Linked DNA regions of Homo sapiens: regions 1, 3, 4, 5, 6 and 7 are each reported to be linked to region 2. Evidence: microRNA targets listed by miRTarBase, many of them from high-throughput screens and not tested one by one. Region 2 holds a microRNA gene; each other region holds the end of a gene's coding sequence.

The links. Region 2 holds the annotated microRNA hsa-miR-603 (CACACACUGCAAUUACUUUUGC, at 2,794-2,815, opposite strand). A microRNA usually pairs through its seed, bases 2 to 8, with sites in the 3' UTR of a target mRNA and lowers its output. Matches are read on the target gene's strand: a 7mer-m8 pairs with bases 2 to 8, a 7mer-A1 pairs with bases 2 to 7 and ends in A, and an 8mer does both.
Region 1: miRTarBase lists WNK3 as a target of hsa-miR-603. The part of its 3' UTR that is shown has no 7-base or 8-base seed match.
Region 3: miRTarBase lists PPTC7 as a target of hsa-miR-603. The part of its 3' UTR that is shown has no 7-base or 8-base seed match.
Region 4: the mRNA of CLEC14A is a reported target of hsa-miR-603. The part of its 3' UTR that is shown has no 7-base or 8-base seed match.
Region 5: the mRNA of PCDH7 is a reported target of hsa-miR-603. The part of its 3' UTR that is shown has no 7-base or 8-base seed match.
Region 6: miRTarBase lists ELOF1 as a target of hsa-miR-603. Seed matches in the 3' UTR shown: 7mer-A1 at 1,377-1,383 and 7mer-m8 at 1,458-1,464.
Region 7: the mRNA of FAM216B is a reported target of hsa-miR-603. The part of its 3' UTR that is shown has no 7-base or 8-base seed match.

The regions. Positions count from the first base shown.
Region 1 is chrX:54,195,226-54,199,873 of GRCh38, reverse strand. WNK3 (WNK lysine deficient protein kinase 3) reads left to right here. Exons shown (of 24, transcript NM_020922.5): 24 at 1,221-4,648. The coding sequence ends at 1,550. Among named protein-coding and RNA genes, the nearest start is that of FAM120C, 14 kb to the right of the region's middle.
Region 2 is chr10:24,273,912-24,278,559 of GRCh38, reverse strand. It overlaps MIR603 (microRNA 603), which reads right to left and starts at 2,875; the gene lies at 2,779-2,875. All of the region lies in intron 2 of KIAA1217, which reads right to left.
Region 3 is chr12:110,533,609-110,538,256 of GRCh38, forward strand. It overlaps PPTC7 (protein phosphatase targeting COQ7), which reads right to left. Exons shown (of 6, transcript NM_139283.2): 5 at 4,536-4,648; 6 at 1-3,487. The coding sequence ends at 3,429. Among named protein-coding and RNA genes, the nearest start is that of RAD9B, 34 kb to the left of the region's middle.
Region 4 is chr14:38,251,108-38,255,755 of GRCh38, reverse strand. CLEC14A (C-type lectin domain containing 14A) reads left to right here. Exons shown (of 1, transcript NM_175060.3): 1 at 1-1,756. The coding sequence ends at 1,206. Among named protein-coding and RNA genes, the nearest start is that of CLEC14A, 2.7 kb to the left of the region's middle. RefSeq lists an enhancer at 1-481.
Region 5 is chr4:31,141,380-31,146,027 of GRCh38, forward strand. PCDH7 (protocadherin 7) reads left to right here. Exons shown (of 3, transcript NM_001173523.2): 3 at 1,094-4,648. The coding sequence ends at 1,470. Among named protein-coding and RNA genes, the nearest start is that of LINC02497, 27 kb to the right of the region's middle.
Region 6 is chr19:11,550,317-11,554,964 of GRCh38, reverse strand. It overlaps ELOF1 (elongation factor 1), which reads left to right. Exons shown (of 4, transcript NM_032377.4): 2 at 600-733; 3 at 884-954; 4 at 1,155-1,919. The coding sequence starts at 618. The coding sequence ends at 1,219. It overlaps CNN1 (calponin 1), which reads right to left. Exons shown (of 7, transcript NM_001299.6): 7 at 4,642-4,648. Among named protein-coding and RNA genes, the nearest start is that of ELOF1, 6.6 kb to the left of the region's middle. RefSeq lists enhancers at 340-539, 2,198-2,317, 2,737-3,031, 2,401-3,372.
Region 7 is chr13:42,787,333-42,791,241 of GRCh38, forward strand. FAM216B (family with sequence similarity 216 member B) reads left to right here. Exons shown (of 4, transcript NM_001318932.2): 4 at 1,259-3,909. The coding sequence ends at 1,458. Among named protein-coding and RNA genes, the nearest start is that of FAM216B, 7.7 kb to the left of the region's middle.

The DNA.
Region 1 (4,648 bases), not on the chromosome of region 2:
ATCTGTATTTTTTGTTAGTTTGTTTGTTTTTATTTTTTTTGAGACGGAGTTTCACTCTTGTTGCCCAGGCTGGAGTGCAATGGCGCGATCTCTGCTCACTGCAGCCTATGCCTCCCAGGTTCAACAATTCTGCTGCCTCAGCCTCCTGAGTAGCCGAGATTACAGGCGCTCGCGACCATACCTGGCTAATTTTTGAGTTTTTAGTAGAGACAGGGTTTCACCATGTTGGCCAGGCTGGTCTTGAACTCCTGACCTCAGCTGATCCACCCGCCTTGGCCTCCCAAAGTGCTGGGATTACAGGCGTGAGCCACCGCGCCCAGCCGTCTGTATTTGAAGAAAGATAAATAGCCATTTAAGCCCTAGGGTTGACATGATCAGACTTGTTTTTTGAAAAAATGACTCTGACTCAAGCAAGAGAAAAGGATTATTTATTGGAGGTAAGGGTAGATGTTGGCAGACCAGTTAAGAGTTAGTCATGGTAACTCTTAACTGGTCTGGAAAATGGGAGAAGTTGAGTTGAACAGAAGTGAACAGATTCCAAAAAATGCTTAAGAGATTAAATGGACAAGATTTGGTGATGGAATGGATGTATGGTGAAGGGGAGGTATTAAGGCTAGGTTTCTGGCTCCCATAACTGGATGCTATTCTAGTGTACCAATCACCGAGATGCGGAATGTGAGCAGACAGTGTGCTTTGGTAGGGGAAGATCACACATTTGATTTCTAGGCATTTGTTTCTGAGATGCCTTTGAAATATCCAGGAGAAAATGTATAACCTCTCCAATTTGTCTTTTTTTAAAAATCAGGTTATCTATAAACTAATAATGTTCATTATATAATTTAATCAGTGCAGAAAAGTACAAAATTTAAAATATCACCTTCAAATCCCACCACCCAGAAATAATTTTCATTAACTTTAGATAAACATCATGTCAAATATCTTTCTATGTATGTATGCATGGAAATAACTATAAAAATGTAAGGCAGGGCAGTTATGAAGATGGCATTAATTAAGGTACATAATTATGGTTAGCACACAGAAAGGTGCTCCAAAAATGGTAGTCCCTAATAGTAACAATAGGAATAGTATGCCAAAAAGACTAGGAAGGAATATTCATTTGTGCAGCAGCAATAGAAAAAAAAAGAATAGGAAGGAATATAGACTGATAAAAGTCTATACCAAATAAACTGATCTTTTGTTTTTATTTTTGTTTTTCTTAGAATACTCCGTCTACTATGGGCTACACATCAACATGGATTTCTTCTCTGTCCCAAATCCGTGGAGCTGTCCCAACTTCCTTGCCACAAGGACTCTCACTCCCTTCATTTCCTGGGCCATTATCATCATATGGAATGCCTCACGTTTGTCAGTATAATGCTGTGGCGGGGGCGGGGTATCCAGTACAGTGGGTAGGAATTTCAGGAACAACACAACAATCTGTAGTAATTCCCGCCCAATCTGGGGGACCATTCCAGCCAGGGATGAATATGCAGGCATTTCCAACTTCATCAGTGCAGAATCCTGCCACAATCCCTCCTGGTCCTAAATGAATCAGAGTAGATGGTGATAAAAAGGGAGGTTTTTTCAGAATTATTTTCAGGACACCCAAGATATTAAAGTTTCTTCCTCTTGGGTTCTGTCATATTTTCCCTCATTTGAGTTTACTTTAGACTATATATTTTTTGTTCCAGTGTGGTATTTGATACAGCTCATCATTCTGTAGAAATGTGCAGTTTGCAGATAGAACACTGCACACAGAAATGTTTTTTCACTTCAAATTCTATCCTCTTTGATACTTGATTTTTTAAAAATACTGTTCAGAATGCTTTAATAAGCTCAGCTTGAGCATTACCATTTCCAGGACACTTTCCATGAATTGTTGAGAAGCTCCCCATCCCCCGCCTTTTTTTTTTTTTTTTTTAACTGCTGCTATCTGCAGCTGGATACTCTTCTTTAAAAATGTTTAAAAATTATTTAGATTGATTCTCCCCAAATGTGGATGAACTGAGACCCTCCATCAGCCAGAGTCTTATGGGATCTTCACTTCACATGTTTGTCTTAGGTTTACCTTTCACAGAAGGCAGGGTAACTTGCTGCAGGAAACGTTTTGGTGTATAAAATTAGAATCACTTTTTTTTTTTTTTTTGAGATGGAGTCTCTCTCTGTCACCCAGGTTGGAGTGCAGTGGTGTGATCTTGGCTCACTGCTGCAACCTCCCCCTCCTGGGTTCAAGCGATTCTCCTGCCTCAGCCTCCTGAGTAGCTGGGACTACAGGCGCCAGCCACCATGCCTGGCTAATTTTTGTATTTTTAGTAGAGGATGGGGTTTCACTATGTTGGCCAGACTGGTCTCAAACTCCTAACCTTGTGATCCGCCCTCCTTAGCCCCCCCAAAAAATTACAATAATTTTGTCAACCAATACAGAACATGAGCCCTTTTTAAATGTGATTTCCCGTCATCACAGCAGTAGGATGAAGCCTTGTTTTGGGTGAGACAGAGGGAAAGGGAAAAAACAGAATTGTAACAGTTCCTTGATTCTGCAGATACTGCTGCTGTTTTACGATTTCAGTAATAATTCAAAGCAGCTGTCTCCTTGTTTCTCACATGCATACTACATTGGTTTTGAGCATCTGAGAGGCATTGGTTTGTCTTGCATTCTTTTGCAAGGCATATATTGCAGCTGATATGAATCTCGTTTGGGGGGAATCCTTGTATTCCTAACAAGGGGGATTAAAGCTACACCTCAATCCATTCTTCTGAAGTGAAATTTACTTGACACAGTAGGTTTCGAGACTTACATATGAAACACTGGCTTTACAGGGTTCTCAGAGATGTGGGGTATACACTGTCCTGCAGTGAGATAGTAGACCCTAGAAGGATACTATTTAAGTTGTCCTTAGCTCTTTTTAATTACAATTTTTAGTTGTTAGAATTTCTTTTTAGTATCTATAGTATCTTAGATGATTTTAGATCTTAAATGAGTTTGGCAGCCTCTTTAGAATCTGAGAGAGATCACTGTCAAGTTGCACTTTACTGGGTTTTATCCAGTTTTAGGAGGAGGGGAGGCAATGTCAAAATGTACACCTTTGGTTTTTAAGAAGGTTAACTATAATAATGTTAAAGGCTAGTCACAGGGTTACCTAATGCTCAGTCTGTGAAACCTAAATAGAATTCTTAAAATGTTATTTACCAACTAAGTATTCATGTTCAAATTACTTACCTTCCACTCTGAAGACTTTAAGGTCATTTCTAATACACATTTACCTAATTAGGAGTTCTGTCTACTAGTAAACATTCCAAATTGCTACCCAACATTACTGTTAACAGATTTTCCTCCGTATTCTTCTAAAAATTATACCCCATGGGCTTGCCAGGTAATGACGAAAACTTAATGGGTGTACTTTTTTTTTTTTTTGCACAGTCTACTTTGTGACATTAAGTACCTCTTTTCCAAAAAAAAAAAAAAATGTGTTTTATGTTGCTTACCTGAGGATCACATCCATTATCAAGAAGATTCTGTCGCTATAATTTGAGGCATCTAGGGCAGCATTTTGAGAATTGCTGTTGATAAGATCCACTGTTTCTTTTCATAGAACATGATCTGTTTTGTATGAGTCTTTCCAAATGTTAAGTACAGATTCTTCAAATTTCTTGTACAGTATTGGTTTGCAGTTTAAAGTGATTTTAGGACATTAGTGTAATGCAAATGCTTGCATTGCACTGTTTTCCATATGTATAAAAACAATGCTCCTAAAATCCCTAATTCTTTAAAACTGCCTGTGTTTCATTATAAAAAGTTGGCTTTGTGTAATTACACCGAGCCATACAACCTATAAAGTGAAAATACTGCAGATTTTAGGACCCCTTCTTCTCTAGTCACAATCATTTTAAACAGTGTACCCCAGGATGAAAAAAGCTCCATGGCTGACATGTACAATTACATGTATTAATGACTGCTCTACATCCTATGTTCTGCCTTTGGCCACCACCTCTATTCCACATATAATTCATCATTCTTGTTTGCCTGCAGACTCTTGCAGTGCCTTGTAATATTTACAATCTTTTCAGGTTTTTGCTGGAAAGAAAAGTAGTCTTCTAAAGTTTGAAGATGGTGAATAGTGTACTGCTGTCTCCATGCTGACTGCAGTAACCGGGTTATCATATATGTTATGTATACATTATGTATATATAACATGTGTACATTTAAAAATACAGAAAAAAGTGAGCTTGTGCAGAAATGGAGAAAACAATGTTATTCTCATCACTGTGGGGTTTTATTAAAATTATTTTTTCCCATGACTTACATGTTTGGTTCAGATTATAGTCACTTTGACTGTAAATACTGGCTAGTTTTCTATCCAGGGCTTTTGCATTATTTCATAATTTTGCTAAATCATATAATAGTGCTATTTTCATCCTTGTCTGAGGTACTTTTCCTCCCCAGAAATAATTAACTTGAGGTAAAGCTCAGAAATTCCCTTCTTAACAAAGAGCCTACTATATAAAAAGGGCCTTCCTTTCCAAAAAACACACAAACCTGTCCTTTTCATTTTCCTTCTTGTAGAGGAGAAAATGGTTGTACTTAACCATCCTGCTTGTAAAGTTTATTCAGAGGATAGTCTGTATGTCCAGCCACCATGTTTACTTC
Region 2 (4,648 bases):
ATACAAGGGACTTGCCACTTGCCTAGTGCCCACATTGTGTCTGCCACTTGCCACATGCTTTCGATAGATTATCCCTTATCCACACAACTCTGCAAGCTCTGTATTATTTTTGGACACTTCACAGATGAAGGTCAGTGGGATTAAACAGCTTTCTCTAAGCCACACAGCTCATGAGTAAATTCAAAACCGGGTCTGTGTAATTTCAAAATTCCTGCTTATCTCACTCCAAACACTGCCTCTCCCTGGTCTGCACACAATGGTCTGAGTTCTAGGTTTCCGGCCTCACAGAGTAACTCTCATCCATCTTCTACCTGACAGTCTTTCAGAAATGAAGACTTTCCAGAAGCCAGTGGTCAGTCTGACCCTTTACACCGCCACTGTGGCTGTAATGTGCTTCTCCACAGTGTTTTGGCCTGCTCCAAAGTGGCTCATGCAGACCCTGCCTCTCCTCGCTACTTTCACACACAGCCTAAGAGGTGGCGTCATCACACTCCACAGCATCTCACCCATGACGGCGTCCTCGAGCTGCACAGACTGTGCGTCCGTCCTCAAAGGACAAAAGGCATAGGTCCATAGAGCTGCTGTCCAAAAGCATCACAAAGGGAAGCCAGCAAGCACTGCTTTCTATCACAGGGGAGAAGTTCCCAGCTGATTGCTGGCAGTGCTGCCACTGTCTTTTGCCCGTCAGAGGGTGAGTCAGAGAGAGGACTCAGGAAAACCTACTGTATTAGGCCATTCTCATGCTGCGATTAGGACAAACCTGAGATTGGGTAATTTATAAAGGAAAGAGGTTTAATTGACTCACAGTTCTGCAGGGCTGGGGAGGCCTCAGGAAACTTACAATCATGGTTGAAGGGGAAGCAAACACGTCCTTCTTCACATGGCAGCAGCAAGGAGAAGAATGAGTGCCCAGTGAAAGGGAAAGCCCCTTATAAAACCATCAGCTTTCATGAGAACTCACTCACTATTATGAAAATAGCATGGGGAAAACCGCCCCCATGATTCAATTACCTCCCACCAGGTTCCTCCCACAACATGTGGGGATTATGGGAACTACAATTCAAGATGAGAAGTGGGTGGGTACACAGCCAAACTATATCATCTGCATAGCAGGTGGCCTTGTCTCCCCATTCCTGGGCTCCCCCAGGGCAACCTGTCCCCCATCCCACTCACGAGGCTTCCCTCTAGGAAGCCGCTAAGAAGAGACCTGCCACCCACCTGCTTGCTCCACTTTGAGTGGGAACCACACCAGGGTCAACCTCAGAAACATCTGAAAAGTTGGAAGTAAATTCAGCAGTCTAGCAAAAGCAGTCTTCTGCAACTGAGGAATCCAGGTTGAGCGCTGCCATGACCTGTATTTGAAAAGCTGCCACCTTCCAATCAGGCCAGAGTTAAAGAGCAATTTGAAAAGAGCAAGAATTTCCAAGCTATAAAACTAGGGACATGATTCTAAGAGGATAAAACATTTTAAGATTGGTTTAAAAGCTTTTGAAAAATTTAAGGCCAGGCATGGCAGCTCACATCTATAATCATAGAGCTTTGGGAGGCCGAGGTGGGAGGATTGCTTGAGGTCAGGAATTTGACACCAGCTTGGGCAACACGGGGAGACCCCATCTCTACGATTTTTATTTTTTTTTTAATTAGCTGGACTTGGCTGGGTGTGGTGGCTCATGCCTGTAATCCCAGCACTTTGAGAGGCTGAGGCGGACGGATCACAAGGTCAGGAGTTCCAGACCAGCCTGGCCAATATGGTGAAACCCTGTCTCTACTAAAAATACAAAAATTAGCTGGGCGTAGTAGCACATGCTTGTAGTCCCAGCTACTCAGGAGGCTGAGGCAGGACAATCACTTGAACTTGAGAGACAGAGGTTGCTGTGAGCCGAGATCGCGCCACTGCACTACGGCCTCGGTGACAAAGTGAGATTCCATCTCAGAAAAAAAAAAAAAAAAAGCTGGACTTGATGGCATGTGCCAGTAGTTCCAGCTACTAGGGAGGCTGAGGTGGGAGCATCACTTGAGTCCAGGACTTCAAGGTTACAGGGGCTATGATTGTGCCACTGCACTCCAGCCTGGGTGACAAAGCGAGACCCTGTCTCTTAAAAATTTTTTGTTTTTAAATTCAAACCCAGTTTTCCTCAGGACTCTTATTAACAGCTATCTAAGGAATAGGAAGGGATGCCCTCAAACCGGGCAGAACGAGATGGAATTCTAAGTCATTTTGTCTTTTGCATTTCTGAAAAGACTTTCATTTTTCAAAGGACATCAAAACTGAAATGCCTTATAAATCCCTTTGTGTTTCTGCGTTCTGTTCAATGGCATCAATAAGATGGATGATCAGCAAATGGCATCAAACTCCATTTGTATTCTTATTAGAATAATAACACGTAAAATGATATGAAATGAAACAGCAGATTCCAATGACCTTGTAGCCCAATTCAATTACTATTTCACTAAATAACGACAAAACTGACAGTCCTCAAGCTGCTGAATTTATGAATTAAATTCAACTTCTCTTCTACATTCTGAGCAGGACTGAGTGGAAAAAGAAATGGTCAGTGAGGACTGGGGAGGAGTTTCCTTCTCTTTGCTATTTAATGCAACATCGCCAAGCCCACTGGAGGGAGGGGTATGGAAAGACAGTTTAAAAAGGAATATCAGGACCAGAAGGGAGAACTGATGGCCAGGGCCCTTGCTATAGTTTGCTCCTGCAGATGAGACACTGCTTTGGAAAATTTTATCATTAACCAAACTGCACTGATGCTAAAAGTCAATAAAGCCAAGTATTAAGTTGGAGCAAAAGTAATTGCAGTGTGTGCCATTACTTTTAAATGGGAAGCACTGCAATTACTTTTGCACCAAACCAACAGCATCAATCTTGCCTGCATCTTAAGCAAAGGCTTAATGAGAAAAAAAACATACTTGAGACTACTAAAGCATTATACAGTCAGTCCTCATTACTAGCAGATTCTGTATTTGTAAATATGCCCATCACCTAAAATCTGTTTGTGACCCTCAAATTAATACTCCCAAATGTTTGCAGTCATCATAGACATGGCAGGACAGTGGACAACTGGAGTTTCCCAACAAGCACGTTCCCAGGTGGCGTCTAACTAAACAACACTCTGCTTTTTTGTTTCAGTTTTCATACTGTAAGGAAGCACCCTTTCCACAGTCTTTTTAGTGCCACAAGTTTCGCATTTTTGTGTCTTTTTGTGTCTGTGTGTGCACCTGCATGCGTGTATGTGTGTGTGAGTGACTTCACTATTTAAAATGGTCCAAGCCAGGTGCAGTGGCTCATGCCTGAAATCCCAGCACTTTGGGAGGCTAAGGCAAGAGAATTGCTTTGTGACAGGAGTTCAAGACCAGCCTGGAATATACTAGTCATGTTCATTGGGGAATTAAGACCTCAAAAACATAGCCAGACCCTGCCTCTACAAAAAAATAAAATTAAAAAATTAGCTGGGCATGGTGGCGTGTGCCTGTAGTCCCAGATATTTGGGAGGCTGAGGTGGGAAGATCACTTGAGCCCAGGAGTTTGAGGCTCCAGTGAGTTGTGATTGTGTCACTGCACTCCAGCCTGGTCAAGAGGGCGAGACCCGGCATCTACAAATTTTTTCTTTAAATAAGAAAAGAGAATAAATTTTAAAAATAAGAAATAAAATGAAATGGCCCTTAAGTATGGTGTGGAAGTACTATTTGGCATTCCTAGGCTCAAGAAGGCTGTGATACACCTTACACAAAAAATAAGTGCATTAGATAAGCTTAGTTCAATGCTAATGAATCAATAATATATATTTTAAAAGGTGTCTTCAAACAAAAACACAGGTAAAATAAGGATTTTTGTTGATTGGTTGATAAAAAGGTAACCAAAGACTCACAGGAACCTAACCCTGTATTTCCCCTAGGAAATTCAGTATTAACTAATAAATTCAGGACTCACTAATGCAGTATTTAGGGCAAGTTTATAGAACATCAATACTGTGAATAACAAGAATTGACTGTATTTTCAAACTGCAGTAAAAATGCCATAAGTATGTAAAATAGGACTTGTAGGAAGACAACAAAGTATATTTAGATGTAGCAGGTTCATCTTTTTTACTTTTTTTGCAGATGTGAGAACTTGACAATTTCTAACCACTGGACTTAGAATGGAGAACACAGCCAATCTGGGTGACAGAGCAATATTCCGTCTCAAAAAAAAAAAAAAATTAGCTGGACTTGGTGGCATGCACCAGTAGTTCTAGTTACTTGGGAGGCTGAGGTGGCTGGTCATGAACTCCTGACCTCAAGTCTCCCAAAATGCTGGGATTATAGGTGTGAGCCATTGTGCCTGGCCAGCAATGGCAATATTTTCTTACTACCAACTCTCAGAAAACATACATTATTCTCCATAATTATCCAATAAATTTGGACCCATCTGAAAATAAGCATCAGTCACTTTTCAGTTTATACATGTATGCTATTAGTCATTACTCTGGTAATATGTGAAATGTAAATCATTGCCTTATTACTTACTGGATATGGGCTGTTTTTTGGTTGAGGTATGCGTCTAATTTATTGGTACTACATTAGAAAATGCCCTACACCAAATATCTGCTCTGATTGGACTAAGATCCTACATTTTTATATTTGGGAATATTGCTCAACT
Region 3 (4,648 bases), not on the chromosome of region 2:
AAAATTTTTAAAATGCAAAAATGTGATACAGTTTCCAGAGAAACTGAATGCTGTAGCTTCTACCAAAGATAGCTGGTATTAAGGTGACCTAAAGAACCATGAACTCATCCAAAGTACAAACGTTTACAATTCGAGCCAATCTTGTTTACATTCTCTCAAACACTCAAAGCTGACTCAATAAATTCCCACGATTCCTGCCTAACTTGTTACTTGGTATGGTGGGCTAATGGTACTGAAGGTGGTTTCCATCTCCGGGCTACTGTCCTATCCAGAACACACGCAGCTGATAGAGGAGAGGACGCTCTCCCATCATGCAAAGCTTGAAACCCAGTTTCTAATCTAGACACAGCCCAACCCCCAGACATGCATACCTGGAATGGATTCTTTTGTGATTTAGTACCCAACAACCATGTCAAGCAAGTACAGTAACTCAGGACAAATAACTTGTTCCCCCTGCATCCCATTTCTTTTAGTTTTTAGAGCCTATGGACTCTACTGCATCTCCATTTGGTAAATTTTTTTTTTTTTTGTGCGCAGGCAGCTTAAGTTCATAGGAAGAAATAAGGTTCTGATATGTTTAGAGTGCACATTTTAAAACAACAAAATAAAAATTTCAAGCATGTGATAAAAATATTGATTTTTATAATACAGTATTGCTTTATAAATATAGATGGAAAAGCTATAAACTTTACTGGTCTTTGGTGCATCCAGAGAGGGATAAATAATTTGCCATTTGTAAATTAGAAATCCAAATTTTTTCTTTTGTTATAAAAGTCCATTACATGAGGCGTGTGTGTGTGTGTGTGTTGCTTAAAATATAATTAACACACACATCAGGTTCAGAATCAGACCCACCAAGTGGTACAGCACAGTAACAACCCATGGAAGCTTGGGTCTGTGACCTGGAAAATTCTACTATGGGTCCAACACAGCCTCTGACCACTGAGAGTAGGAGAGATACTTGTTAAGCAGCACTCCAGCTGACCCCCCCGGCAGTCATAAAATTAAGTGCATAACACAAAAAGAACAGGGGAAAATAGAGAAAATATTTTATGTCACTAATCTATAGGCCAGATCCAAAGCCAATTCCACTGTGAAACTCAATTCTTGCCCCCACTACTTTCAGTATCACTGGAACAAACACATCGTCAATTTCTAACAATCGTTTCTCAAAAAGGTAAGCTGAGTAAATAAGTTGTATAAAACACCACCAATCTAGCTTTACAAAGATTGTGTTTGACGGGTTAAATGAGAGCAGAGAAAAACCAGAAACTTGACGAGCACTGCTCTTACCAGGAATTAAATGTAGGCGTTGGAAAATGAATGCAAAATATATCCAGATCATAAGGCTACATACTCTTACCAAAAATAATTGAAAACCTAAACAAAAGAGCTGAAGTTGTCAGTCCTAATATAAATGTATTCATTCTAACAAAACCCTTCTGGATGCAACTTTCTTTACTTTTTAAATACACAGAGACTGCAAATAGTTTGTGCAAAATAAATACCCCGCCACTTGCCACTCATGCTTCTGTGTTTTATCATAGCATGATGATTTCTCCTTAAATAGAGACTCCGTCCAGACCCCCCACCCCGCCCCCACCGCGTCTACCAAAGAATTCTGTTTTGTCAAGTTAGGGTAGTTAAGGCATTCTGACATGTAATTAAAGGTGATTCAAAATAGATTATCTAACATTATGCCAATTTAGGAATAGTAGATAAATTACTGAACGGCTTACAAATGAATAACTCATTCTTATTATAAATGAAATGCCTGTTACAAGCATGATGCATTGAAATATAGTAATGACATGTACATGGTACATGTTAAACAATTTTAAATAAAAGCCTGACAGTTACTCAAATATACAGTACAAATTCACAAAACAAAATCTTTTAAAACAAGTTGAGGTAACCTCAAACATAAATTTTAATGCAATAAACCAGGGAGTCAGTATCTCCTTTAGAGAAAGACTTTCTATATTCTCAAGTAGATTCTCATCAGGTTTAATTGCATTCTCATCTATACACCAATGTTACCTGACTTATATATAAAACATGGCTTTAATTTAAGGATTTCTAAGTATATATTTTTTTCTACCACCAAGTTAATGAAGGAAAAAAACTGACCCAAAAATATATATCTTTACAGCAGTCAACTTGTACACAAAACTTAAAAATAAGTTTCAGCTTGCAGATAATGTGAAAACTGAATGCGGGGTAGTTTTGTAAGGAAACTATACACTGCAAAATGGCTATTTGGAAACTGTAAACATTAAGCTTGATTCAGAAACCCCTAAATTTCCATGTGGGGTAATTGTAAATGTCAGATCATCACTGGGAGTTTTCCTCATGGACGTCTGTGCTGCTGCCGCTGCGCACACAGTGCTCTCTCCACATGGACTCACTGGATTTGGTGCATGCTCTATAGAAAGCAAGGCTACTAATAAAAGGTCTGAGAGTACGAGTATGGGTAGGTAGCATGACCACTGAAAGCCAACAAAATTCAAAGTTACAGCTGTCTGTTCTCAACCCTTCAGGCCTTGGGACCTAGAGTTCCCATTCAGGGGCATTCTATCAGACAACTAGGAGGAATTTCAGCCATAACAATTAAATTTCTAGGCTTTGAGGGGTTTTACAACCTTGAGTATTATTTCCATAAAAAAATACTGGTAAAGTGTCTCCCCTACCCCTCCTGGAGATCAGGCCTTAGCCTGTGATTTGGACTAATCAATAAACTGCCAAAACTTTAACCACAGGAACACAAACATCTTTTTAAAAGCATGAAATATTTCCATCCATAGAACTAAAATGGATTTTTCTCCCGATTTGTAACAAAAAAGCTTTTGGGATCAAAACTGTATAACCCAGAGCAATGTTTTAGAGCAGAATCATAAGCCCCTGAAAAATAGGAGTTTATAACAAAGACATAAAGCCACACCAATCATCATAACAAAGACTATGCCTGTGGAGTACACATGTAACATTTCTTTTGATGAATAATGTATGTTTCTAGTAGATGTATCATTACGTACAATTTGTGTTAGACTTGTACCATCCCTTTAGCATACTAGGATTTTGAATTCACTTTACCAACATTACTCATTTTCAATACTTCAACTACTTTGAAAAGTAACAGCCACGGTGGCACTGAACACCTCCATCCCCATCATGGAAAGAACATCGAGAAATGAAGGCCAATCTTCAAATATTGGATCTCTTCAATTGCTGCCGGCAGATATGAGCTAGTGAATGATAGTAGTGGTTCTCAACAAAGATCTCAACGAGTCTCAAGAAGACAGGCAAAAGACTTACATCACTGGCCATTGAGATCAGTGGCAAAGAAATGTGGTCCTGCCAGCAGGATCAGCACACATGGCAGGGGAAATTTGGGATGATGAAAGGAAAGGCAGGACTTGACACCTCAGCTAGTCTGTATACTCAGCCACTATTGAAAGAAGGACGGTGATGTCATCTGGCTTTCCACCTACAATGAAAATGAGAACCTATCAGTATATTTTAAAAGGAAAAGTCAATAAAAAATGTGTACTTAAATTAAGTACTAGGAGACAAATGCTTGCATTCCAGGCAGTTTTGGTTTGTCAGTATACCCTAGTAGAATAAAGAAAAAAATATTTGATTAAAAAAAAACAGTTAAACAAAACTCCAAGAAATTACATGAAACTGAAGCTTAAAAAAAAAAATCTTCCCTGCTCCTTTACAACAGGAGCTCTATTCAAACAGCCACCACACCCTCTGTTCACATCAATCACAGTGAATCTGACGAGAAAGTTACATGCTTCTATACCCACAATCCTAATTTAGACAGACATATCCAATGTTTTGAAACTAGGAATAGCCTTGTATTCTAATCTGCCAAACAGCTATGGCATGCACTTTTTCTATTTTAACATTTTTTGGAGGACTAAGAAATGTTTCACATGTCATAAAATTATACCAACAAGAAACTAATTCTACTAGCTCTGATATGCTAGCACCAACATGTCCCAGCCCTGAGACGGAGCCACTGGCCTGCTCCCAAAGTCACACATCATGCTGTAGATAGGACAAGTCTTCAGTCAAGGGCAGTTTCACATTGCTTCCCTCTTCAAACCCTGCTGTGGCAATTTGTCAGGCAAATACTGTTGAGTCCCACAAAGCCAGAGGAAGGGAGAAGCGAAATGTCAGACACGTGAAAGGCTGAATGTTAAACTGTTAGGAATGTCCACGCACTCTGGGCAGAGCTCGGAAGCCTTTTGGGTTCAGGTCCAAGCATTGCGGTGGCGGCAATAAAGGGCTTCAGGTTCCACCTGCCTCTGCCGCCAATGAGGTTCAGTTCTGAAGGGCATGCTGTGTGGGGAAGACATGACGAAATGCACTTGCTCTCATCCTCCTGACCTTGCTGAAAGCCACAAGTGCACAGTTTGGGGGCTGGGAGAGGACACCTCCACAGTCTCACCCAGAGCCCAGAATGCTCCACTCTACTGACACCATGTCCCCAGTCAGTCCCTATGACCTTCCCAAAGAATGCTTACCTCTCACATTCAATCCATTGTCACATGCAAACTGTGCAAAAGGTGACATATAATTTGGGTCATAGGCCAGCTCATGAGCTTGCTCAGCAATGCTTCTGGCAGTCTGTTGTATA
Region 4 (4,648 bases), not on the chromosome of region 2:
CTGCTGTTCTGGGTCGCACTGGAGCGCAGGCGTTCCCACTGCACCCTGGAGAACGAGCCTTTGCGGGGTTTCTCCTGGCTGTCCTCCGACCCCGGCGGTCTCGAAAGCGACACGCTGCAGTGGGTGGAGGAGCCCCAACGCTCCTGCACCGCGCGGAGATGCGCGGTACTCCAGGCCACCGGTGGGGTCGAGCCCGCAGGCTGGAAGGAGATGCGATGCCACCTGCGCGCCAACGGCTACCTGTGCAAGTACCAGTTTGAGGTCTTGTGTCCTGCGCCGCGCCCCGGGGCCGCCTCTAACTTGAGCTATCGCGCGCCCTTCCAGCTGCACAGCGCCGCTCTGGACTTCAGTCCACCTGGGACCGAGGTGAGTGCGCTCTGCCGGGGACAGCTCCCGATCTCAGTTACTTGCATCGCGGACGAAATCGGCGCTCGCTGGGACAAACTCTCGGGCGATGTGTTGTGTCCCTGCCCCGGGAGGTACCTCCGTGCTGGCAAATGCGCAGAGCTCCCTAACTGCCTAGACGACTTGGGAGGCTTTGCCTGCGAATGTGCTACGGGCTTCGAGCTGGGGAAGGACGGCCGCTCTTGTGTGACCAGTGGGGAAGGACAGCCGACCCTTGGGGGGACCGGGGTGCCCACCAGGCGCCCGCCGGCCACTGCAACCAGCCCCGTGCCGCAGAGAACATGGCCAATCAGGGTCGACGAGAAGCTGGGAGAGACACCACTTGTCCCTGAACAAGACAATTCAGTAACATCTATTCCTGAGATTCCTCGATGGGGATCACAGAGCACGATGTCTACCCTTCAAATGTCCCTTCAAGCCGAGTCAAAGGCCACTATCACCCCATCAGGGAGCGTGATTTCCAAGTTTAATTCTACGACTTCCTCTGCCACTCCTCAGGCTTTCGACTCCTCCTCTGCCGTGGTCTTCATATTTGTGAGCACAGCAGTAGTAGTGTTGGTGATCTTGACCATGACAGTACTGGGGCTTGTCAAGCTCTGCTTTCACGAAAGCCCCTCTTCCCAGCCAAGGAAGGAGTCTATGGGCCCGCCGGGCCTGGAGAGTGATCCTGAGCCCGCTGCTTTGGGCTCCAGTTCTGCACATTGCACAAACAATGGGGTGAAAGTCGGGGACTGTGATCTGCGGGACAGAGCAGAGGGTGCCTTGCTGGCGGAGTCCCCTCTTGGCTCTAGTGATGCATAGGGAAACAGGGGACATGGGCACTCCTGTGAACAGTTTTTCACTTTTGATGAAACGGGGAACCAAGAGGAACTTACTTGTGTAACTGACAATTTCTGCAGAAATCCCCCTTCCTCTAAATTCCCTTTACTCCACTGAGGAGCTAAATCAGAACTGCACACTCCTTCCCTGATGATAGAGGAAGTGGAAGTGCCTTTAGGATGGTGATACTGGGGGACCGGGTAGTGCTGGGGAGAGATATTTTCTTATGTTTATTCGGAGAATTTGGAGAAGTGATTGAACTTTTCAAGACATTGGAAACAAATAGAACACAATATAATTTACATTAAAAAATAATTTCTACCAAAATGGAAAGGAAATGTTCTATGTTGTTCAGGCTAGGAGTATATTGGTTCGAAATCCCAGGGAAAAAAATAAAAATAAAAAATTAAAGGATTGTTGATAACCCAGACTCAAATATCATTGCCTTCCTCCAGGAGTAATTAGGAACAGCTGAGGGCATGCTGGGAGTAAGCAGCAAGAGTGCATTCTGCTTTTAGATTGAGGGAGAGGTCCTTAAGTTCCTCGAATGAGACACAGATCTTTAAGAACTAGTAACTTTTTCATTGATTCTTTTATCCTTTCTTTTCAAAGTCACTGCTACTTGTGTGCTTTGCTATAAATCGAAAGTGTAGTGTTGCCAGAATTGCTGGCTCTGGAAGAAAATTACAGTTGACCACCAGTTCAAGTGTTTACTTTATGTCCATGCCCAAGGAAAACACATAATTTGCGTTTTCCCTTTCCAGTGTTTGTGCTTTCCAGCGTAATGACCTCCCCAAGCAAATAGCCCTCTCCTGAACATCAAGATGCTCATCCTCATCTTCAATTATGGTGATGTTAATTCTCAATTAAAATGTTAATGCTAAGTATTGATTTGCAATCTTCTGGTTGCATCAAAGAAAAAGTAAGCTGGTTTTCCTCCAAAGTTGCTAAGTTCTTGTGCATTTTTCAACCCATGGAAAAACTTGAACACCAAGCCATTTTCTTTTTCTCTTGATAAGAATGTGTGCAATAACAATACTTGCTCATTTTGGAGTGATTATAATCTTACAAGTGTTTACATGGGCAAAGGCATGGTAAACAGTTTACCATAAGAAATAATAGTATAAGAAATAAGTGACAAATTTTAAAAAATCTATCATCTTGTTATAACTGGGGGGTATTAGAAAGTAATCTAAATGAAGCACTCCCATGAAAAATAATTAAGACATAATAAAAATCACTGCCTCGTGGAATCAAAGTCCCTAGAAGATATCCCACTTTTATTAGTACGCTGAGACTTTAAAACTAAGAGTGTGGGGGTTGGTGCATGCAGAGAGGCAGAGAAACAAGCTTAGTAACAGGGAGGAATGAAAACAGAAGCTTACACTTTATTTTCACAGAATTATTTTAATGTTTTTGAGTGTACAATGTATACAATGGAAAATAGACTTACAAGTCGTAAGTGACCAATTATAAAATATTACTAAAAAATTAAAACAGCTCAATCCATAAATTCATTTCCTAAATATAAATATATATATTTAGTATTATAACATTAAAAGAATGAAACAATAGGTAATTTGCCTCATATACTAAATATGTTTCTAAATAGTTACACTTAAATAAAATTACAGAAAAATTAGAATTAACAACATTCAGGGGAATTTTAAATATTATTTTACAAGTGAAATTAAAAATCAGATAAGTACAGTAAATGGCTTGCCCATGTTCCCCAACCTGACTTGTCAGAGTATATCTCAGTTCATCTCAATCTTGGTGTTTTAGCTTTCCTCTTCACATGATCTCTCAGTAGAGAAGGTAAAAATTTGAGTAGAATATATGATGCTTTCTTTTGTAATTTGAAAAATAGCTTTATCTATAAGTGAGCTGAACTGTTTGTGTGTGTGTGTGTGTGTGTGTGTGTGTGTGTATACATAGTCATGCATTGCTTTACAATAGGAATACATTCTGAAAAATGTGTTTTTAGGCAATTTCGTCATTGTGTCAACACCATAGCACGTACTTACAAAAACCTAGGTGGTATAACCTATTACACCCCTAGGCTACAAACCTGTATAGCATGTTACAGCACTGAATACTGTAGGCAGTTTTAACACAGTGGTAAGTATCTCTGTATCTAAACAGATCTAAACATAGAAAAGGTACAATTAAATTACAGTATAAAAGATAGAAAATGATACACTTTATTGTATAGGGTACTTACCATGAATGGAGCTTTTTAAAGGACTGGAAGTTGCTCTGGGTGATTCAGTGAGGAAGCGGTGAGTGAATGTGAATGTGAAGGCCTGGGACACTTTATAAACGCTATACACTTAGGCTACACTAAAATTATTTTAAAAATTTTACCTTCAGTAATAAACTAACCTTAGCTTACTGTAACTTTTTTTGCTTTAAAAACTTTTTAATTTTTAAACTTTTTGACTCTTATGTAATAACACTTAGCTTGAAACACAAACACATTGTACAGCTGTACAAAAATATTTTCTTTCTTTATATTCTTATTTTATAAACATTTTTTGAAATTTATTTATTTTTTTTACTTTTTAGACTTCATTATTTAAGGGGCCTATTGAAGTCTCTGTTATTATTAGGTTGTCTATTTCTCCTGTCAATTCTGCCAGGTTTTGTTTCATGTATTTTGGGGGCTCTGTTGTCATGTGCTTGTACGTTTATTATATTTCCAGACAGATGAGCCCTTTTATCGTTATAAAATGTCCGTCTTTATCTTTAGTGAGAGATCTTGTTTAAAATCTATTTTGTATGGTATTAGTTGTCTTATGGCTGTCTTTATGCTTGGTATGGGCTTTTTACATCCTTTAGCTTTCAACCACTTAAGCTTTTGAATCTAAATTGTGTCTCTTTTAGGCAGCTCATATTTTGACCATTTTTTAATAATCCATTGTTCAGTATCTGCCTTCTGATTGAAGTGTTTCGTACATGTGTGTTTAATATAATTACCACTAAGAGAGGATTTACACCTACTGTTTTCTGTTTGTTTTCCACATGTCTTATGTCTTTTTTGTTCTTTTATTTCTTTATTATTGTTTTATTTTGTATCAAGTAAATATTTCTAAAATTACCATTTTAATTCTCATATTGTCTCTTTTCCTTTTGTAAAGTTCTTTTCCAAGTAATTACCCTGAGGATTACAATTAATATCTTAACTTAAAAACTATATAATTAGGATGAAGATCAACTTAATTTTAATAGTTTACAAAATTTTGCTCCAATGTGGCTATATTCTTTTCCTCCTCCTTTGTGCTATTCCTGTTAGTCAGATTATATCTTTACACTATAACAATTTTATAATTATTGCTTCATGCAGTTTTTTTAAGAGACAGGGTCTCATTCTGTCACCCAGGCTGGAGTGAAGTGGCACAATGATAGCTAATTGTAATCTCAA
Region 5 (4,648 bases), not on the chromosome of region 2:
TGTTTGGCAATAAAAAACAATAAAACATTTTAAATAAAACCCTTCAGGTTATTGCCTCAGAATCTGTTGAAGTAGAACAGGCTTTTCTCTCTCCCATTCTCTCTTTCTCAAACAAAGTCTGTAAAAACATGTTTAATATTTAGAAAATACATAACCATTCTCCAAAGACAGACACATGCTTTCAATTATACATACAGGTAATTATTAACTGTCATCTTTAATCTTGTTTCCTAAGAATTCTTTGTACATGATTTAGCCTTTTAGAAGTAAAAGTCATTTCCCATTCCATTGGACAGCACCATTAATTAGAGTACAGGCTAGTTCATCCAAAGTTTAGTAACTTACCCGTATTCACCCAGTACATTACATTTCAGATAAGATGGCCTGTGTATTTTGATGTGAACACATCAGCACATATTAGGTCATTTGGCATGGTAGGAGGGGGGTGAGGGGATGTGGGCTAGGGTGGGCAGGTGCGTGATATTGCTAGTATGCTTATACCTGTAACTACTGGTTCCTTGCTTTTTAGTTTTTACCACATAATGTGCTGTCAATTTAGGTTCTACTTATGAGTCACCCCATGTCTTAGAATGTATTTTAAATATAAGGTTTTGCATATTTGCATTCTATGAATAATGTATAAGCAGGAAGAAATCCAATTGGCAAAAGCACACCACTTCTGGGATAATTTATAAATCCAGAAAATTGTCTATTTGGATTTAATAATTTTTCTTATGGATGTGGAAAATATTAGCACCCATACAAATTTACCTATGTATTTAGAGCTTCTAACTGAGACCATCCTCATGTCCCTGTCCTGTAACAAACACACATATATCTGTTTCATCTACACACTTAAATGTATCATTTTGTCTACTTTCCTGTTCTATAATATTGGATGTCCTTGCAAAACCTTATCTTTGATGCACATGGGATTAAAAACTGTCCTATGGAATGATGAGCTAGAGGGTGTTGGGAAATGAGAAATAAGATGGTAAGGAATATATTTATATATTTCCTCTAATTTCATATAGATCAGGGGAGCCTGTTGAGGAGTGTCAAATACTAATGGCTTATTCTCCTTGGATTTCAGATTCAAGGCCTCTTCCAGATGTAGCCCTGACTGGGAAGTGCACTCGTGAGTGTGATGAGTATGGCCACTCAGACTCCTGCTGGATGCCGGTCCGCACTTCTCCGGAGAGGAAGAAGAGCCAGCCTAAACTGTCCACTTTCATGCCTGTTGATGAACGAGGAAGCCAGGAAAAGCTGGCCAATGGGGAGGCCGCCATCATGGGTGACCGCAACAGAAACCTCCTGAACAAAAAGTTGACCTCATCCTATGAGACCTTCAGTGCAGCTAGTTTCAGCAAAAATGAGGAAGCCAACCCTGAGGATATTCCCCTTACAAAAACAGGGGAATATAAGCCATCTCCTGTCAATACTCTCACTAGAAGAGAAGTTTACCTGTAGGCTATAAAGGAGCAACAGCAAAGTTCTTTACATGTATGAAAAGGAGAATAAGGGGCAAAAACCTTACAAAGCAAAACGTTTAATCACAAAGAGGGGGCTACCAAAGAGACAAAGCTTTGCCTGCCACTTCTGCCTCCAGATCAGGCCTTTAGTGATACTGTTAGCCTGATTCTACTGTACAATGTAGAAACCATCCTTGTTACTTGCATGTCTAACCCCTTCACTGATTCCCAACACTCACTTTCTCTTCCCCACCCCTCTCCAAAAAAAAAAAAACAAAAAGAAAAGAAAAAAAAAGGGGGATAGTTGCAAGTTTCTTTCACAGTAACTGTACGAAGCCTGATTAGCAGAACACAACACACCCTCATTATCCCTAAGCTGAAGCATGATTTTAGTCACTTTGATTTTGTTCGAGTGTCATCTGGCTGGTCAAAAATAAGCAGGACAGATAAAATGTATTTCAGACATACCATCAGAAAATGGTTTATCACCATCAAAGGCAATCCTTTGAAAGTGATAGAGTCCCTCTAAAGGTACAGTCCTTAGAAAGAGGGACTGTATTAAAAAGTATTTTGGGAATATCAAAGCTTTAATATTCCAACAAAGACTAAGAGAAAAACAATACTCAGTGGGTGATTGCAGTCCTAAATTGTCATATGTTGTTATTTTCAGGTCAAGAGCATCAACTTCAATTCCATACATTCACCAAATATTCTCAGTATACACACAGTCTTGATTACATGTATCAATTTCACCAGTTATGACTTCTAAAAATTATATATATTTTTTCAGAACAAGACCACTATTATTAACTAACTTGAACAATTGTATCATCCAAAGGCCAAAGATCATATGGCAGATCAGGGAAGTCATGAAGTTGATTTGGTCTTGACGTGGAAAACCATTAAACAACAAAAGCAACTGAACCCATGTATGCACAGAAACAATCAAACACTAGTTCATTTTATAGTGCCCAGGAAAATGTTCCTTCTTTTAAAATGGATTTTATTTGAAAGCGCAGAAAATGAAAACTAGTGAGATATATTTTTGGTATTATAATAGGCAATTGGTTGAGGTTCAAGTTTAGTTTCAGGTAATATTATCAGGGAAGATTCCATGTTTTAAAATAGTATTTATGGATCATGGGTAGGTTAAGAAAGATGCATTGGCATATAGTCTTGATAGTTAAGTCCACGATTATCATTTTAGAATCCAGGCTATGCTTGCTGCTCTTTTTATCCACATTTTAAATTACAATTGCATTTTTTACTTGTTCAGTGCACACTTTGATGCACCACAAGTGCATTAATTTTGAATCGTGTGCAATATAGAAATATTTTGAGACTCACAACATTGAAACAAGGTGACACCCTAGTTGACTTTATCACTAATGTGATTTGAACATTATTTAAACAAATCTAGACTGAACATGAAAGAAAGGAGTTTTGGGCAGTGACATTTTTCACAGAATGTATATCTCAAAGGTGAAAGCAGAGTTTTTCCAGTGCAATAAAAAGAAACAGAATATGCAGATTTTGAGCTACTCACTCTATAGAGGATAACCTAACACGGCTGAAAATTGAGCTGGGACATTCAGACGAAAGTGACAATCCATGGACAGAATAGGGAATAACAGGTGTGAAGAGAACAAACTTATCACTGAATGTTTGCAAGCTGGTTAAGGCATAGCCTTGATGGCTCTCTAGCAAACTGTAGAAACAATGTAGCTTTGGGTAGTTTCATGCTTTGCAGAATTTCTTAGACTATAAAGTGACACAGCCTGGAATATAGGTTGATAATTCACTATAGGTCTTCAAAATACTTATCTTTGAAAACCGCTTCTCTGTTTGGTGGGGTACAATTTGGGGGTCATTTCCTTATGCTCTTTCTTAAATGGAGTTTTCATTTTGATGTTAGTTTATGTATAATAGGTAGGATGCAAAAAGATATGTAATTGAAACAAAAAACATTGGACTAAAATATCAGTAATTGAACATGTTTATGTTTGATTATTATTTACACTATGGAAAGATGCAATTCTAGTACTTTGTTAGGAAACTGCATTAAAGCAGTTCTGCCTTGTATAATCTGTAAGTACCTATTAAGACAAAATACTTCTAAAGATACTTATGAAATGTATACACATTTTTTCTTGCACGTTACAAAGAAAATACTCAATTGCATAACACGGATGTTTGACAAACTTTTTTTTTTTTAATGCATTTCTTTCTTTCATGAGACATTGAAACCACTGATAGCTCATTTCACCCTATCTTAAACCCTTCTCTTGTCTATAAAACTAATACGGGTCACACCGGACCTTCGGATTAATTGGATCCACATTCCCCAATGATGTTTGCACCCCATTCAAGATAGCCATGCCATTGTCATTTAACTCGTGAACCTCTCTTTAAAACTAAAATGGATGTGAAAGAATAAAATTCAGTGTACTGTAAGTATTCACAGTAATTCTAGTAGAATTAGCTGTCATAACATGTTTATTATATAATGAGCTGGCATGACACAGAAATATATTTTGTGTTTGTATGACTTTTATTTTAAATAGGTTAAATCTGGTGCCACTCCATATATAGAGTGCTTTTGAAAAAAAATCAATAAAAAGAAACAAAAAAAATAAATGAGTGAATGCAAAATAAGCAACTGTGCCTTTTATACCTGTTGTTACGGTAAAAAAACGGTTGTTGGGTTTGGACAATGAGGGGAAATGGGCTATTCCCAACTTTTTTGATCCTGTATATTTGTCCATGTTTATTTTCTGAACATAATAAATAATATATTAAAAATTTGCCTTCTGACAAACTCAGATAATGGACCAGTCTTAAATATTGTTATGTCATAAAGCAAAGTTAAGGCATTAATATGGGCTGCTTAAATCTGACTAGAAGATGAAAGCGTTTATTGTAAGTGTAACACAGAGATACTATCAGGAGTGAAATCAGTCCATTTGGCAAGGTAAAATACTGATTTAGAGTTTTATTCTTTATTTCTTTTTTGTTGTGTTTCTTTCAGCTATGGTTTCATTTTGGTTGTACAGTATATAAACCATATTTGTTTTCTGTACACAAGACTCTCAAGTGAATTTTGCATGCATTATACATTAGGACACATTTATAAATTAATGAGTAACTATATAAATTTATGTGTATTAAAACGTCTG
Region 6 (4,648 bases), not on the chromosome of region 2:
TTTTTTTTTTTTATGCAGGGTTTCATCCTGTTGCCTAGGCTGGAGTGCAGTGCCTGGATCATAACTCTGGATCATCACTGAAACCTGAAACTCCTGGGCTCAAGCGATCCTCCCATCTCAGCCTCCCAAGTAGCTGGGACTACAGGCCTGCACCACCATGCCTGGCTAATTTTTAATTTTTTTTTTTTAGAGATGAGGCCTCACTATGTTGCCCAGGCTGGTATCCAGGTCCTGGCATCAAGTAATCCTCTCACCTTAGCTTCCCAAAGTGCTGGCTGGGATCACAGGTGTGAGCCACCATGCCTGGCCTTGTCTCTGTTTTATAGACGAGGAAACTGTGGCACAAAGAGCTTAAATAACCTGCCCAGGTCACGCAGTAAGTGAGAGAGATGGGGTTAGAGCCTCGTCTCACCCCTTCCATCCAGAGTGGGACAGGGAATTGTCCTCCTGCATCAGGACTGAGGGCCTCGTCCCTCAAGGGCAGAGGCCCCGGGACCACGGTGCAAGTCCCAGACCCTCTTTCCGGCCTGCTTTCTAGAGCATTGAGCTGGGGCGCTGCGTGGTTTCCTCAAACCACTGACATCTGCCACTCCCCACAGGCTCATCCACCTGCAGACATGGGGCGCAGAAAGTCAAAACGAAAGCCGCCTCCCAAGAAGAAGATGACAGGCACCCTCGAGACCCAGTTCACCTGCCCCTTCTGCAACCACGAGAAATCCTGTGATGTGAAAATGTGAGTGGGGAACAGGGCAAGGGATCCAGCCTCCCCACTGCCTCTTCCCCGCTGTTCTCCATCCTGCCCCTTGCCTCCCTTGGTGAAGGCGTCATCACCCACAGGCCCAGGACGCATTGCTCACCAGTCCCTTCTCTTGGTCTGTTTCAGGGACCGTGCCCGCAACACCGGAGTCATCTCTTGTACCGTGTGCCTAGAGGAATTCCAGACGCCCATAACGTGTATCCTTGGAAACCTGGGCTTTTTCCAGAGGGTGGGGAGGGGGCTGGAGTCCGGACCCTGCTCATCTGGCCCACTGTGTGCCCTGGTGCAGGGCCAAAGCCGTCCAGAGGAACAGGTGCCACCTAGTGATTTCTGTGGGGTGAGAAGATGCAGGGCAGGGTTCCAATGCCAATGATCGCCCTTGACCTAAGTGGCCCAGATCTGTCAGAACCCGTGGATGTGTACAGTGATTGGATAGACGCCTGCGAGGCGGCCAATCAGTAGCGACACAGAGGACCCGCCCCCTGAGCAGCCCCGCGTACTGTGGATCCAGCTGTTCGGTTCTGGTCCAGAGACATTCCAGGGGTCCAGGGTGTGGGTCCTGGGCTGTCACAGCCGTGTGTGTGTGTGTGTGTGTGTGTGTGTGTGTGTGTGTGTGTGTGTGTGTAGTGGGTGTGCGTGTGGGTGTGGGTGTGAGTGAGTGTGGGTGTGTGTGGCTGCACGTGTCACTGGGGTGGCCGTGAGTGTGTGCTCACAGGTACGCGGTGGTGTCGGGTTCCTGGGCCTGAGGGGCCTGAACTGATCTCACTTGGCTCCGAAAGCCTTTGCTGTGTTCCCTGCAGCCCCTGGCCCCCCAGCCTTGGGGCTCTGGCTCCCCCCGGCGGAATTGGGGGACTGTTTCCTGACATCCTGGACAAGGGAAGCCCACTAGAGGCTGGAACAGGACCTCTCCAGCCTCCTCACCAGCACCGTGCCCATCTCAACTGGACTTCCCGCTCTCCTTCTCCACCTTCTAGTGCCCGTGGCCGGGGATTCAAAGCCGCCGTTCCCCAGGTCCCTGGGCTGGGCCCTGACAGGGAGCCGCCCCCCTCCCCATGGTAACCAGGAAGCCCGTTTCATGTTCAGTTGCTTTTGTAGAGGAAGCAAGGGCTGGGATGGGGACAGCTGTCAATCACAAGCCCTTAAATAAAGCAGCCAGCGCACATCCCTTGCTGTCCGTGATGTCTTGGGTTCTGCGTCTGCCTGGTCACCAGAAGAAGGAGAGGGGACCTGAGGCTCTGACGTTCGGGAGGTGGCCTGGTGGCCCATGTGACCAGCCCTTCAAACCACCCAGCGTTTTATTCAGTCAGTAAGCATTCAGGGTGGTGGAGCAGGCAGACATCTGGCCAGGTGTTTACAGCAGTCACAATAGGAAATGGGGGAGGTGAGACAGAACAGGTGGTCAGAGGAGGCTTCTGGGAGGGGCAGGCTGAGACAGTGACACCGTAGGGCCACCTCTAGCCAGACGCTGACCTCTGGCCTTCCTGCGTCGCCCCAGTGTCCTGACAGCCACTTTGTGGGGCAGGTGCCAAGCTAACCCCAAGTTCAAAGATGAGGAAACAGAGGCTAGAGGTGAAGGAGGTCACTGGCCCAAGACCCTACAGCCAGAAAGTGGCACAGGGGGGATTTGAACCCAGGAAACGAGGCTCCACAGCTTACAGTCTGACTTCTTGTGAGCCCAGAGTCCAGGCTGAGGGAACAGCTTACAGGCCGTTCTGGAGGTAGTGAGTGGAAGAGGGACACGGGAGGGAAACATGAAAGGGGCCTTTATTCAAGGGTGGTGAGGACTCTCAGAAGGCTGGTGTTGGGGCGGGATGTGTGTGGCCGATGGGGAGCACCTGAGGGCTGATGTCCCCTTAGCTGGTCGCACCGGTGACAAGGACCACAACACCCAGCAACCTGGGGCAGTGCCAGACCCTCCACCTGGCCTCATGAGCCCGGGTGGCAGGTGACCTGTGCTTCAGAGTCCTCGTTGCTACAGTGCAGGGGATGAAAGCACCTTCTTCCCGGAGCCATGCTGAGGATGGAAGTGCCAGGCATGGTTTGAGCGGCTCTGGGGCCCACCCAGGGCACTGACGGATGTGAACAGCGGGGGGAGACATTGAGCTGGCCCGGAAGCCCTGGCTGCCAGACTGGGCTGCTGGGTCTGGCCTGTGCACCCCCTCAGGCCCACTCTGCCATGACATGTCTTCCCTGGTTATCCCGCCACCTCCAAGATCCCAGGTAAGGTCTGCTAGCCCTGGCAGGAGCCGGCACACATGCGCAGAGTGGTGGACAGGCACCTAGGTTTAGGGTGATGGCCCTCTGGGATCCAGCAAAAAGGGGGCTCATTCCTCTGGCACCCGAGGCCCTTCCTGCCGCCCGCCCACCCCAGCCTCACAGGCTAAGTGCTAATATGGTGCTGTTTTCCCGAGGAGGCAGGGCCCTGGGCCAGGCCCGGATCCTCCTCAGCATAGCTTCCCCGCGCCGGCCCAGGGGGAGCAGGACTTGCGGTAGCCAGGCCAAAAGCGCCTGGAATCCGGTTTACGAGGCCCCAGGGGCTGCGTGCGTCTGTGCGCGGGTCTTCTGGTGTCTGCCTCCGCAGGTCTCCACGTTCCAGCCTCAACTCCTGCCCTCCCTGGGGAGAAGACAGCTCCGTGCCGCGCTCCTCGCTTCTCTGCCTCCTCTCCTCCTTGGAATCCTGATGGTTGGGGACCTCTCCCTCCTCCCGGGGATAACAGGGTCCCCTCTGAAATGTGAGGAGGTTGAGGCCCTGGACACAGCCTTTTAGAGTCCCGGGTTGGCAGGCTCAGCCTTAAGACGGCTGAGAGCGGGCGGGGCGCACAGAATTAACCGTGCCCTATGGTGCCCTGTGCCAGTCAGTAAAGGGCCATTGCCTTGGCTCAGAAGTGCCCCTCTCCCTGTCCCCTTTCCCCTCCCCACAGTCTGGGGCTAAAGGGTTCACCCTGCCCACAGGGCCCACCAGGACCCCTACTTGTCATCCTTTCTCTATTGATGCCTGGTCTTTACCAGCGATTAAACATGTAGAACATCACCCCATCTGGGGGTGTCATTTCATGACCACAAGAGGCTTACTGTCCCCATTATTTTGATGGGAAAACAGGTCTAGGGAGGGAAAGTGATTGCCCGAGGTCATCCAGGCAGCTGCTCTGTGATTCACATGCCATTTAGCCTGTCCCAGTACTCAGGCTCTTTGTCACCACCATCCACAAGCCTCTGGGAGAGCAGTGTGGGTCGTGTGTGTGTGTGTGTGTGTGTGTGTGTGTGTGTGTGCACGCGCGCGCGCATTGGCTCTCTGGCTGTGCCTTTTTTTTTTTTTTTTTTTTTTGAGATGGAGTCTTGCTCTGTTGCCCAGGCTGGAATGCAGTGGCGCCATCTCAGCTCACTACAGCCTAGATCTCCAGGGCTCAAGTGATTCTCCTACCTCAGCCTCCCAAGTAGCCGGGACTACAGGCATGCGCCACCACACCCTGCTAATTTTTGTATTTTTAGTAGAAACAAGGTTTCACCATGTTGGCCAGTCTGGTCTCGAACTCCTGACCTCAAGTGATCCTCCCATCTCAGCCTCCCAAAGTGCTGGGATTACCGGCATGAGCCACTGTGCCCGGCTGGCTATGCCTTTTTTACATGTCGTAGGGAGTGTGTACTGCCTGTGTGTGCATATCTGTGTGTGAAAGGGGGGAGTGTGTGTGTGTGTGTGGACTTTGCATGTGAGTGTGATGGGGTGCCTGTCCTGTGTCTAGCTGAGTGGCTACAGTGAGGTGTGTGTCTTAGGGTGCGTGTGAGTGTGTATGTACGTCTTAGGGTGCATGTGGGCATGTGTGTCCGTGCAGATGTGTGTGCGGGATATGGCGCATATCTAAAACAGAGCAGCTCTGAGGCCTCAGGAGATTT
Region 7 (3,909 bases), not on the chromosome of region 2:
TTATGGCTGTAGAAAATGGAAGCTCAGGCAGGTTATGTAACTTGATTAAGATCACACACAGGTAATAAATGTCTGTTAGGACTTCAAGCCAGAGCTGTCACCTCCAAAGATTATACATTTTCAGCCCCATCCTCTGCTGTCTCTCCTCTTCTTTCAACCTCTTTAGATTTTACAAAGCACAAATGAAATAATGGTTGTGAAAGACCTTCACAAATTATAAGCATCAACTTACCGAAAGGCTAATTGTTGTAAAGTCCCTTTTCTTGCAGGAAATGCTTTCAGTTGCTGGCTGCCCTTCATCATACCGTTCTCCTAACTCCACTAGAGTGCTTTTTAAACAAAAATCTACTCACTTGGCTTTAGCACATCTACTTTATGCTGTTGTTTTTATATTTACACAAAAGGAAGGCATGGTTTTTGCAATTGATTTAATAAAAACAATAACAATAGTTACCTTTTATTGAGGACTTCCTGTGTGTCAGGTGCTCTTCTAAGAACTTTGCAGGTATTGTATTTAACACTCAAACACCTGTATGTGGCAGGTGTCTTTATGACCTACAGTTTACAGAAGAGAAAACTAAAACATGAACAAGTTAAATAGCTTGACCAGGGTCATGCAAGTATTTAATAGTAAACAGAGAAGCCGAGATTCAGTCTGGTCTCCATGATTGTCTGAAGTGTCACTAGAAGCATCATCTAGTAGCTTTGTTTTTAGAGCAAAAATTGCATAGAAGCCAATGAATCCAGAAACAGAAGTATTCAATGCTTAGTGCACATAAAATCCACCAGGTACCTTATTAAAATGCAGATTTCCAAGATTAACCCTCTGAGTTTCTGATTCAGAAGGTCTTTAGAGTCATAAATCTGCATTTTTAATAAGGATTTTGAAAAAGCATGTGGCCTCAGCCCAATGATTCACCAGTTGGTGGTCTGCAGACTACACGTTGAGAAACACTGAGAGAGATCAAATATATCTTTCTGGTTTGAAGAAAGTTTTGATATCGAAGATATCATGGCTCAAGTCCCTTTCCAAATAATCTGACATGTTAATCAACGACCAAGTGTTTATTAACTTATTGAATGAGAAATACAAAAGAAGAAAAATATATTTCCAATCTTCAAAGATCATATAATCTGGGCATGCTTACCACAAGAGTAGAATAAATTTTGTACACATAAGTAAATATTTGCAGTTTTGTTTTCTTATTTGCCTTGTAAAATTGTTGATTTTGAAGTTTCTCTCATTTCTTTCCCCTAGGCTATATTACTCAACGGGAAGCCTTGTCTTATGCTCTTGTACTTAGAGATTCAACCAAGAGAGCCTCAGCCAAGGTAGCTCCTCAAAGAACCATTCCCCGGAAAACTTCAGCCATGACAAGAAGATGTCCATCAGTACTACCTGTATCTGTGGTTCTACCTAGGGCCCAAAGTAAAAGGCGCCAAGTGCTCAGGAACTGAGACTTGGCAGCATTTTCAGAAACAGGAAGTTTGCCCATGTATCCCTGGTATCTAGTGGGTGCTTTGTGCATATTTGTTGAATGACAGTGAATAATTTCTAATATAAACCCCAGACCTAAAAATAATCTCTGATTCATATAAATTTTGCCAGCAAGACCAAGAGGTTTAAGAGCAATGGAGCCGAGAGTAAGCAAGCCTTTCCACATAACATCCGTAGAGTAAAAGGACTTTTAAAGCTTTCAAAGTAAAAGTTTACTTTGGATTAGAACCTCCTAGAGAAGTCCCCAAAACAGTGAAAGGGGACAAGTGACCAGAAAGGGCCAGGTCCTCTGTCACTGGGTGACCATTTCTAGCAAACTATCATGTATACATTTTGAAAATATACAAAACAACACAGGATTAACACTGATCATAGAGGGCTTACAAAATCATATCATCCCAGCAACAATTGGCCTGTGCATTTCCTTCCTCTCCTCTTCCCCATCAGGCAATGGCATTTAATTTAGCCCCAAAGCTCTTCTAGTTCTCACCTGGCTTGATCACTTTGTGTCATCTTGAAACATGCACTTATCAGTCTACCACAGCTGAATTGATTTTATGGAGCTGTAACTGGCCTTGACATGGGTAAGAGAATTCATGCACACATCTTTCCCTGGCAGCTGAAGAAACACTCTTAAAAGAATATGAAATAACCCCGAAGACTTTATTTCATGTCCAACCTTTCTGTGGCCTCAAATGTTTTAAGCAAAGCACATAAAACTATACTAAGCAGTGAGTCAGTTCATCATACAAAGGCATAGTATTGCATTAGTTATATTTAATGGTTATTTTCATCACCAGAGATTTTGTGTGTGTGTGTGTGTGTGTGTGTGTGTGTGTTAAAAATCAGTCACCAGTGCTCATGTAAAGTCAAAACAAAAAAATGCTTCTTCCTCATCATTGTAAAATACGTCACCCCATTCAAATCAGCTGATGCCTATGAAAGGAATTGGTTGAGGTGGAATATAAATTTTATTGACAAGGGATGTGCTAACATTGATCTGAAAGGAATATGCTGCATTATTATCAGAAAAAAAATCATTATCTTCTCTTTGCAATCATGAACATATAAGATATAAAAATTGTCATGAGATTCTGAACACTAGTATTGAGGTCCAGCACTACTTCCAAGCTCCTATCTGACTTTTCTTTGGGAGGAATGGGAAGTGTGGTTGGCCCACTAGTCTGATAAGAAGTCTTGGTGAAGCTAATACTGACCTTGCTGGGGTCATTCACTTAATCATAAAGAAGCTTCTTGACCTCTGCAAATTCTGGCCCTGACATGTATTCTAAATACCTTTACAGTTCTAAGTGAGAAATTGTTACATAGGCTTAGAAGAAGAAAAGACTCCAGTGGGACTGGGATGAGCTGCGTGGTAGCCCTCATAAAGCAGAGAGGTTGGTGGGAGACCTAACTTGGCCTATACTAGCCTTCCCATTGTTTTCACAATGGGCCTTTTATCCCCTCTGAACTGCTTGCCTGCACTTTTATCTTAGACTTTTTTTTTTGATGAGCATAGGTATTTGCTGTGTAAGCCTTATCTAGTGATGCAGAATATCAAGGAGGCCACTTACAATTCTAAGCTGCATCCCTGTATCAAAAATCTCAGAAGCACCTTGCATCTGATAGAGGCTTGTAAGAGCAGATTGACAGGTGAATGTCACAGGTCCATAAGAAGGACAAATAGATCTAAGTTGGGCAAAAGATTCTATTTGTTGGTTCTCCCTTCTAAGATGATAATATGCCCCTGCACTTGAGACCTTACTTGAAACTTAAAGAAATGTGATTGGTTATGGTGCTGGGAGAAAGGGGTGCACCTGGGAGGACACTGAGAAAGATAAACAAAGGGGAAGGAAGAGAGGACAACCTGTAACTTTTAGAAAAGGCTACTACTTTTAACTGTTGGAGAAAATGCTATTGCTTGCACTCACAATGTCAATATACATTATCAGAACTTAAGTCCTGGAGATCAGAGACTGTTTCACCTGAAATTGCTAGCACCTAGAATGGCCCCCGGTTGCGGTAGGCAATCAATAATACTCTTTGAATAATAATGAGGTTTTCAAAGATTCTGCAAGTCAGACTGGCCTCTGGCTTTGTGATATTATTCTAGAGTCCCAGTAACCCACAATTGTTGATGAGGAGTAGCAGTAGAATATCAAGGACAGGTGATGAGACAACAAGTCTATCCCGCAAAGGGCAGGGAATAGAGGGTACACTGGAAAGAATTTGAAAACAATAATAAAGCTGACTACAAGTTGGTCTATTTTTTATTACCACCATGAGCCAGCAATTCTAAATAATATCAGTGATAAAGTATTCATCCCCCAAAATATTTTATTGAACTAGGTTCTAAACAATTTCTGAGGTTACTGTTGAGTTTTAAATAATACATATATGTAAGCTTCAAA